Regions from separate parts of the Homo sapiens genome. Here region 1 is linked to region 2. The links come from fine-mapping of genetic effects on gene expression. A gene starts in region 2. The other region holds a variant in brackets. All regions are shown on one strand. Distances are from middle to middle. Region 1 has its middle 2.7 kb from the start of S100A8. Region 2 holds the start of S100A9 (S100 calcium binding protein A9).

What was found. PIP is the estimated chance that this variant, and not a neighbour inherited with it, causes the effect.
Region 1: its variant is the best candidate, but not a certain one, in a credible set for the expression of S100A9 in whole blood (TOPMed, PIP 0.66).

The regions. Positions count from the first base shown.
Region 1 is chr1:153,391,565-153,395,954 of GRCh38, reverse strand. It overlaps a transcript of S100A8 not described here. Among named protein-coding and RNA genes, the nearest start is that of S100A8, 2.7 kb to the right of the region's middle. The variant G/A (reference allele first, on the strand shown) is at 1,824.
Region 2 is chr1:153,355,240-153,359,629 of GRCh38, reverse strand. S100A9 (S100 calcium binding protein A9) reads right to left here and starts at 1,776. Exons shown (of 3, transcript NM_002965.4): 1 at 1,749-1,776; 2 at 1,197-1,361. The coding sequence starts at 1,346.

The DNA.
Region 1 (4,390 bases), 36 kb before region 2:
GACAGCATCCCTGCTCTGAAAGAGAGCCCCAAGAATCAGTGAACAAGGGTGGGGCTGAGCCTGGGAAGAGACCAGGATCGGGAGGCAGGTGCATTTCTAGCAGAGGGAACAACAGTAGAAAATCATAAAGTATGTCTAGGAGCAACAGAAATTTTGCTTGGAAATTAGTGTTCATGGAGAAAACAGTAGGAAGTCAGCTTGAATGGGTGGGTTAGGACCAGAGTCTGGAAGTCCCTGAAAACTGAGCATTGGAATTTGGACTTTATCCTTTTGGTAAGGGATCCTTAGTTGTTAAGTGTGGGGAAGGGGCGAGGGCCCTGGGACCAGCTCTGTGCTTTAGGAAACTAGTGGTAGGGGTTTGGGGTGGAGGAAGACAGATCAGACCTGCACAGCCTGGCTAGAGGCTGTGACGAGGAGGTAAACAGCTTCATGGGGACGGAAGGGAGGGAGGCGGCATCAGAAAAGGCAGAACATCAAGGTCCAGACCTGGGCGCAGACTGAGGGAGAGGAGGATCCAGAATGAGGTGGAGGTTTCAGGTGCTGGCGATTGGCATGGGACCTCGGTGCCTGGGTGGGAGCCAGTCTGCAGGGAATATTGTGTGCTGGGTTTGCACATGCTGAGTCAGACACTGACAGGAGCTGAGCCAACAATCCAGCCTGGCAGAACCACAGACACATGTTAAGGGAAGAGCAATGAGTAGAACCTGGGTGACAGTCAACCCAGGAAGGCTTCCTGAGGGAGAGAAGGGTTGGGTCTGTTTTTTTCTACAACATGATGATGGATGTGAGGGTTACTCCTGACCCAGGGCTATTCATGAACCACTGATCTGAGTCCTCCGGTATCCCTGACCCCACCCACCTGAGACCTGTCCCTGCCCTTGCTCTGTTTCTTTTTCCTTTTCCTCTCCCCTGGGACTCTAGGGATCTAATGCAGAATCCCTTAGGGAGGGTCTCCTCTGCCTTCAGGAAATGCCAGAGCCCACTTTAGAGGGTTGTCTTTTCTGAGGGTTGGTCTGGGAACCGGTGTCCTGAGCTTACTGAGATAGAAATCATGGATTTTGAAAGAGTGTTGGGGGGTGATATACCACCTGCGCACAGGACTGCAGGGTCACTTAAGAAACTTGGTCTGGTTCCCTCCCCACCTGGTCCTTTGCGCCAAACATGGTGGATTGTCCCTGGAGCTGAGCTGGAGACCTTGTTTCTCATCAGTCAGGCTCTGGGGCAGAATTTGCCCCTGCTGCTCCGGGCCTGGCCTGCTGTCCCTCCCACACTTGCCATCAGCTTAGTTTGCCTTTCAGGACCTAGCTGGGCCCTCCATTCCTTGGGAGATGTCTGCACCCCATTCCCCTTTGCATTCTTTCCTGTGGAAGGGCATCTTCTGCCACACTGTGCTTGTTTTGTACTCTCCGCCGAGACAGGACCTCAGTGTCCCCATAAACGCTCAGCAGGTGTTTGGGGAAGGAATGCAGAATTGGGGCCTGTGGGGCTGGAATTGATGACCTAGATCTGTGCTCCTTCCTGCAGGCCCCTGGCTGTGTCTAGAGGCATGAAGACCATCGCCTGAGTTACTTTGGCCACTCTTCTTGCAGGCCCAGGGGAGAAATACCTGTCTCACCTGAGAAGTGCTGGGCTCCACAGGCATTGAGTACGAAGCAGGGGCACCCAGCCTGAGCCCTCCCTGCCCTCTCCTGCCCCCTTCTGGGGGTTTCTTCACCAGCTCTGCCTGCTCTGTCCTCATTTCCTTGGCCTCAGGGATGGACCTGTCAGGTCTGTTGGGACACACCCAGGGACTGAGCCCTTTCCTGTAAACATGACCAGGTTCC[G/A]CTCCCTCTAGGTTGCCCCATGTCCGCTAGGCTGCTTACAGCCTCTGCCTTTCCCCAGATGTGCTTACCCAAGTCCTGATACCTTTTGCTGCAAGGTCAGTTCAGCCTGGCTCCTGCTGTCCCCAAAGCACCCAAGGCTGTCCAGGGGCGCAGTTTCTGGGGAGGGGGCGACATTTCACGATCTTGCTGGTCAGCCTGTACATGATGTGGGAAGGAGGTCACCACTCAGGACTCCCTCACTGGACCAGGGGAAGGACCTGAAGTAATGCCCTGTGCCTCAGTTTCCCCATCTGTCAAATAGGGATAATTATACTTGTAATGTCCACATCACTAGGTTGCTGGGAATATCAAATGAGTCAGTGGATGCAAAATACTTTGAAAATATGATATGGTGCTTTGAGGCAGGTGCTGTTATGCTGGTCACATAGGATAGTACGTGGTGAATAATAGGTATTAACCAAGGGTGGATCCTTGGTTGAAAACTTGTCATGTCAGAAATGGCGTTGTTTTCCTAGATGGAGCTTGATTCATCTTTTGTCAAGGAAGTCAGACTGCATTTGTTTGATGAATTTATACCCTGCCTTCTTCCAGAAATGATTTAAGATGGCTGATTGTGATAAAGAGAATTTCTGCCTTGGATAAGGGAAGGGTCAAACTTAATTTTGTATTCATTTATCCCTCAATAAGTATTAATTGAACATGTAGTAGCTGCCAGGCCCTAGGGTTGTGAAAAGAAATGTGATTTCTTTTCTAAATGGTCTCCTGGTCCCAAAGAAAAGACAGACAATAAACAAGTGAATCATAACATAGCAGGGCAAATGCTGTGATGGGTAAGGATTTGGGTAGCATGGAGGAGAGAAGAACTAATTCTGCCTTGATGGGGTGAGGGCAGGTGGATCAGGGATGGACTTGGAGCAGATGATGCCTGAGCTGGATCAGGAATGGTGAGGAGGACATTACAGGGACAAAAGGCATTACAGGCAGGAATAGGAAGTGGATGCTGTCACATCACATCATGAGTCACTCAATCATTTGATACGCTGAATTACTATGTCTCTCTGTGGGGCTTAGTTTCCTCATCTGTACAATGGGCATTATAATAGTACATACGTCATTGGATTAGTGTGAGAATTAAATGATCAATGCAAATAAAGCAGCACTTAGAATAGTTCCCGGACATGGGAAAAGCTCAGTGAGTGTGAACTAGTATTTTGTCATGATTTGCTCTGATCAGTGATTGTGGCTGCTGTTATTGTGTGTGCTGGGCACTGTGCTGGGTCCCCAATGGCTCACATCCAGAGAGAGCTGGATTTATTTTGGAGGGTGAAAGACTCCCTGCTATGTTTATGCAATGGCTCATGCCCTTGTGCAATGCAGAGGGACCCCAAGCAGCCTCCATCTCCCAGGGCACGGTGGATCCCCAGCTTCACAGAACAGGAGAGCTGTGGAGGAGTGTGGGCAGCAGGGTAGGAATGGATTTAGCCCTCGGCAACAACACATGTCCCCACAAAACATTTTCTTCATCCATTCATGTGTTGAGGGACACTTGGGTTGCTTCCACCTTTTGGCTCTTGTAAATAATGCTGCTATGAACATGAATGTACAAACATCTGTTTGAATCCCTGCATTCAATTCTTTTGCATATATACCCAGGAGCAGAATGATGGATCATATGGTAATTCTGTGTTTATTTATTTGAGGAACAAACTTGCCGTTTTCCATAACAGCTGCACTATTTTACATTCCCACTAACAGTGCATTAGGCTTCCAATTCTCTATGCCCTCACCAACACTTGTTTTCTGGGTTTTAAAAGAAGTAGTAGTCATCCTTGTAGGTGTCAGGTGGTATCTCATTGTCGTTTTGCTTCATGTTTTCCTAAAGATTAGTAATTTTCATATGCTTATTGACCATTTGTATATCTTCTTCGGAGAAGTGTCTATTTGAGTCTTTTCCCCAATTTTTGATTGGTTTGTTTGTTTTTTGTTGTTGAGTTGTAGGGATTCTTTTATATTCTGGATATTAATCCCTTATCAGATATTTGTTTTACAAATATTTTCTTTGTAACAACAGAAACACACCACAGTCTTCAAGGTTGGAAGCCAGTTAATCTGAGTAGCATTTTGTTAGTGGTGGGGAGAGGATTTGTTCCTCCTGAAATCCTGGGGAATTGGCCACCTCCTCTTCTCCTCTTAGGCATGAAGCGCGTCTGGCTTCTCCAAAGAACTCTTCCCCTCCACTACCTCAGAGTTAGCTTCCTCTCTTCAGCCAGTGATCCTGGGGTCCCAGACACAATAATTAACCAAGAGAGGGTGAAAGGCTCCCTGCTGTGTTTATGCAATGGCTCAGGCCCTTGTGAAGTGCCGAGGGACCCCAAGCAGCCTCCATCTCCCAGGGCATGGTCCATCCCCAGCTTCACAGAACAGGAAAGCTGTGGAGGAGTGTGGGCAGCAGGGTAGGAATGGATATAGCCCTTGGCAACAACACATTTCCCCACAAAGCACCCACCCAAAAGAACAACAACGATAGTTTTAGTTTTTAGTAATGAGAACAATAGTTCTCATGACTA
Region 2 (4,390 bases):
AGCACTGGTTGGTTCCAGCTCTGCCACCCTCTGGCTGAGTCACCTCGCTAAGTCCCCTCCCAGAACCTGTGGGGTACCCAGCCAATGCGAGCACTCTCCTGTGCAGCCCATCCATGAGGCTCTGCTTCCTTTCCCACAGCATCGCTTTGCTTCTGGTGGGGGATGTCAGGTGGGGGGTGAAGCGGGCATAGGGGGTCACATGGAGGATAGTTTTGCCATGCGGCCTCTCTGCTGGGCCCTTTCTTGCCTACCCCACCCAGCATCCTGCCTGCCTGAGGCCTCCACCTATGGAGAGCTGTCAGGGCCCCTAACTCTGAAGGCTGCAATTCTCCACCTTACCAAGGCGGAGGGAGGGGCACTGGGAGGGCTGGGGACCTACCCCAGGATGTCTGGCTCCGGGACTGGAACTGAGACTGAGACCCATGTGTTCCACCCTTCTTAATGCAGGCCTCTGTTTCCCGACTTTCCCCAAATTTGAAAAGAAAACAAAAAGGCTGTTGGAAGTGCTCAGCCTTTTTCTTAGAACTGCCTAATCATTTTTGGAGCGGGGGAAAAACCTCCCAGTTCCCTGAGTGCTGTGCAGGTGCTCTCCATGTGCTCTTTATGCATTCATTTTCCACCGCAGACCCTTAGGATTAGAAAAGCCCCCAAGTCTTCCACCCCAAGTTCCCGCCTGAGGCTTAGGGTCTCCTCAGCTTTGTGCCAAGTGTCATCCTCAGGGGCTTCCCTCCCCAACATTCGGGGCTCAGCTCAAATGTTACCTCCTCAAAGAGGCCCTTCTCATGTACCCTAACTGGTCACCTCCACCCCACCCAGCCCCATTGCCCACAGCGCACTCTATCTCATTTTCTTCCAGGCACTTATTGGCATTTGGCTTTATCTGTGCTCTTTATTGGCCAACAACTTTACTGTGTGTCTCCCTCCACTGGAATAGTGGGCTCCCCATTTACCACTACATCCCTCTGCCCAGAACAGGGCCCGACAAATAGCAGGTGTTCAATTGAGCAATTTCTTGACCCTGTCGTCCTGTGTAACTGTGAGCACCTGCCCTGTATAACAGGACACTCGCTGCGTCTTGGGGCTGGGCTCCAGGAGCTCAAATCTTCCCCTTGATTGCTGTAGCCCATACTCCCATCCTCCCTTGTCAACCCAAACTGCGGTGAGGCTGGGTCAGACCTGCCAGAGTCCAGCCCTACCTTGAGAAAATTTTGCAGATCTTTTCGCACCAGCTCTTTGAATTCCCCCTGGTTCAGGGTGTCTGGGTGCCCCAGCTTCACAGAGTATTGGTGGAAGGTGTTGATGATGGTCTCTATGTTGCGTTCCAGCTGCGACATTTTGCAAGTCATCGTCTTGCACTCTGTCTGTGTAATGGAAAACCAAGAGTTGGGACACTTAGAAGAAAATGCTGTCAAGCTTCTTTGACACTTCCTACTAAGCACTCACAGAAATAGTGGGGGAAGTGCAAAATAAAAAGAAAGCACAGGCTGCAACTTAACTGGGAGATGGCCTGTCACACACATGTACAAAATGATTTTTTAGAATATCTACAGAGTGCCAAAAAGCAAAGCATTTGAGGGCAGGAGGCCCCAGGGGAACATGACCTAAGAAAATGTGAAAGAAGCTTTAAAGTAGGCAGGGCCAACCAAGGAGGGCTTCTAGGAGGAGGATTTGGAAGGAAGTTGGGTCAGGGAAGGAAAGAAGGAATCGGCAGGCAGGCTTCTGCCTGGGGAAGCTGGCAGCTCACTTACCAAAGCCGAGGAGCCACACAGAGTGTTTGCCAGAGCTGTGCAGGCTCGGCATTTATAGGCAGCTCCTGACTGGGGCACTTGGCCCTTTGGCCCTGTCTCCGGAAGATTGCTTCACAGGTGAGCAGTGTGGTAATGCTGCCAGGAAGGGGGCTGGGGCGGGGCAGGAAATGTTCACAGAGCGCCTTCTGCTTTTTTGTGAAATTCCCAGCCCTGGCCTGAAACTGGTTTGGGAGGAAGCTGGTTGTTTAGTTCATTTCCCTTCTATCCTAAGGCCCTACTCTCCCCGAGCGAGCCTGCTGCTCCTCTGGCACCACTCAGCCCCCCATCCCCTTTGAGGTTGAAGCAGGCTGAGGACCTATGGGGGCCTGACCCTCTCGGCTGCCCCCCATGGGCAGTCTGCCCCTTCCTTTTAGTCCAACAAGGATGGTCTGAGCTCTCACCCATGCTTGCCTGGCTCTGTGATACTTAGGATGGCGAGGGGTTGGTGTTCTTAGATTCATAGGGTGAGATTTGGGGTTAGAAGGGTTCTCAGAGGTGGGCAACCCTCTTGCATTGTAGATGAAGAAACTGACACCCGGAGATGGACCTGAGCAAGGTCACATAGCTGGTTGCTGACTTGGCAGGAAGGGGACCCAGCTATTCTGGTTCCTGGTTAAGGGCAATTCTGATGATACCTTCCTCTTGCAGTCTGAGTGAGAGAGCCTCAGGGCGAATATGTTTCTAGCATCTCTCAGCATCATTTTTCTAAATCCTGCTCCCAGCAAGGGTTCCAGGAACTTATAACTTGGGAGACAACTGTTTTTACTTAGCCTCCTGGTGGGCAAGATGTGTCCTTCTCCTGCTACGAACCTCCAGTTGCTCCCCATTGCCTATGGAGAAAGCTTGGCTTAGCCCTGCGCACAAAGCCCTCTTGGAATGGCCCTGCCTGTCCGGCCAGCTTCCCTTTCACTACCTCCCTGCCCACTGTGGGAACACAGGGCCCACCTCCCACCTTGCCACCCCAGGAGTGCCCTTCCCCTACTCCACAGTGATATCCTGCCCGCCCCCACGGCTCAGTTCTAATGCACTCTCTTCCAAGGAGACTGCTCTGTGCTTCCCATTTGGAAACAGTTTCTGTCTTCCTGACTATGATTCTCATACCACTTCTGGCTCTCAACACTTGCTTTCCTGGAGTAAAATTATATACATATTTTGCCTCTGTCCAACAATTGGCTGTAGATCCTCAAAGGTAGGTTCTCATTCATGTTCTCCTTCTCCTATGCACACAGCCCGGGGCTTGGCAAGAGAGACACCCTCGGATTTGCTGATTGATCCTTGCTGAAGTCCTTGCTGGCATCCTTTCCCGTCACCCCTGGAAGCCAGTATGGATGATCCACCCTGGGACTCCCTCTTGCTTGCTGCCCCCTCTCTCTATCAGGAAAGATGGTTCTCTTCTTCTACCTGCACTGGTTATTTTGTTCTGTCTCCATGAAGCCTTCCTTTATTGCCCCAGCCCCTCCTGACTGCTTTGTCCTCTGAAAGCCTGAGGCAATCTCTGTGTGTGCTAAGCATTGGCCCTAAGCATGGCCTGCCTCACACTGCTGAGATGCACCTGGAGTAGTGGTTAAGACTTCAGACTGTCTGTGTGACCTTAGGCAGTTTACTTAACTTCTCTGTGCCTTACTTTTCTTATCAATAAAATAGGATAATATCAGGACTTACCTTGAGGATTGCGACAATACATGGAAAGTTGGGAAGAGCTCAGTAAATAAAAGGTATTATTACTAATAATCTTTTCATTCATTTATGCAACAAATATTTGTTGAGCACCTACTGAGTGCCAGATATGAATGCTAGATGCTGGGAGAACTTGATGAGTGAGTCGCAATACAAAGGGGAGACATAATCTTATATCCTGTCTTCCAAATTACGTTTTAAACTCTTGGTAGCTAAGGACAGGGCTTGGCACAGTGCTAAGCACACAGCAAGCATCTAATAAATAAATGAGTGCTTGAATACATGAGTCGCCTACGAATGAATGAACGGTGCAGACACAGCTCAGGAATACATGAGGTAGATTTCCTATCCAAGTCCACCTTCCATTGTTTAAGCTAATAGAGGAAACCCAGCCAGCAGCCAGCAGCCAGCAGCCAGCAGCCAACCCTGTGTGCCAGTGCAGCCTGTTCTGCAGTCCCTGCACAGCCCCAGGCGCCCTTCCTGTGTGCTCCCATGGCGCCCTCTGCTGCCTCTGACAAAGCACTTCTCACTCAGGACCAAGGATCTCCAACTCACCCTTGCGGGAACCAGACCCAAGGTGAAGCTGGTGGGGCATGAGAACATCAACGGCAGCAGTAGGGCAACTTGTGGCCACTGATATGGGGCCTCAGGGTTGGGGACACTGGACAGTGGTGGCAACTGTGGGGAATGAGAACGTTCCTACCTTGAAGGGACAGCCAGTGTCAGGCCAGGGCTGCCACGTGGGAAAGTAGACCAGATGTTCTTGGACCTCCTGAGGGCCCAGGACATCTGAAGCTTTATATGAAAATTCCTGTTTAATACAATTTGTCCATTAATTTAAAATAAAAACAAAAAAAGCATGACAATGAAGCAGGGTGTGTGTGACTCAAACCCTGAGTGATGGTGTGCGGCAGGCATCTCTGCTT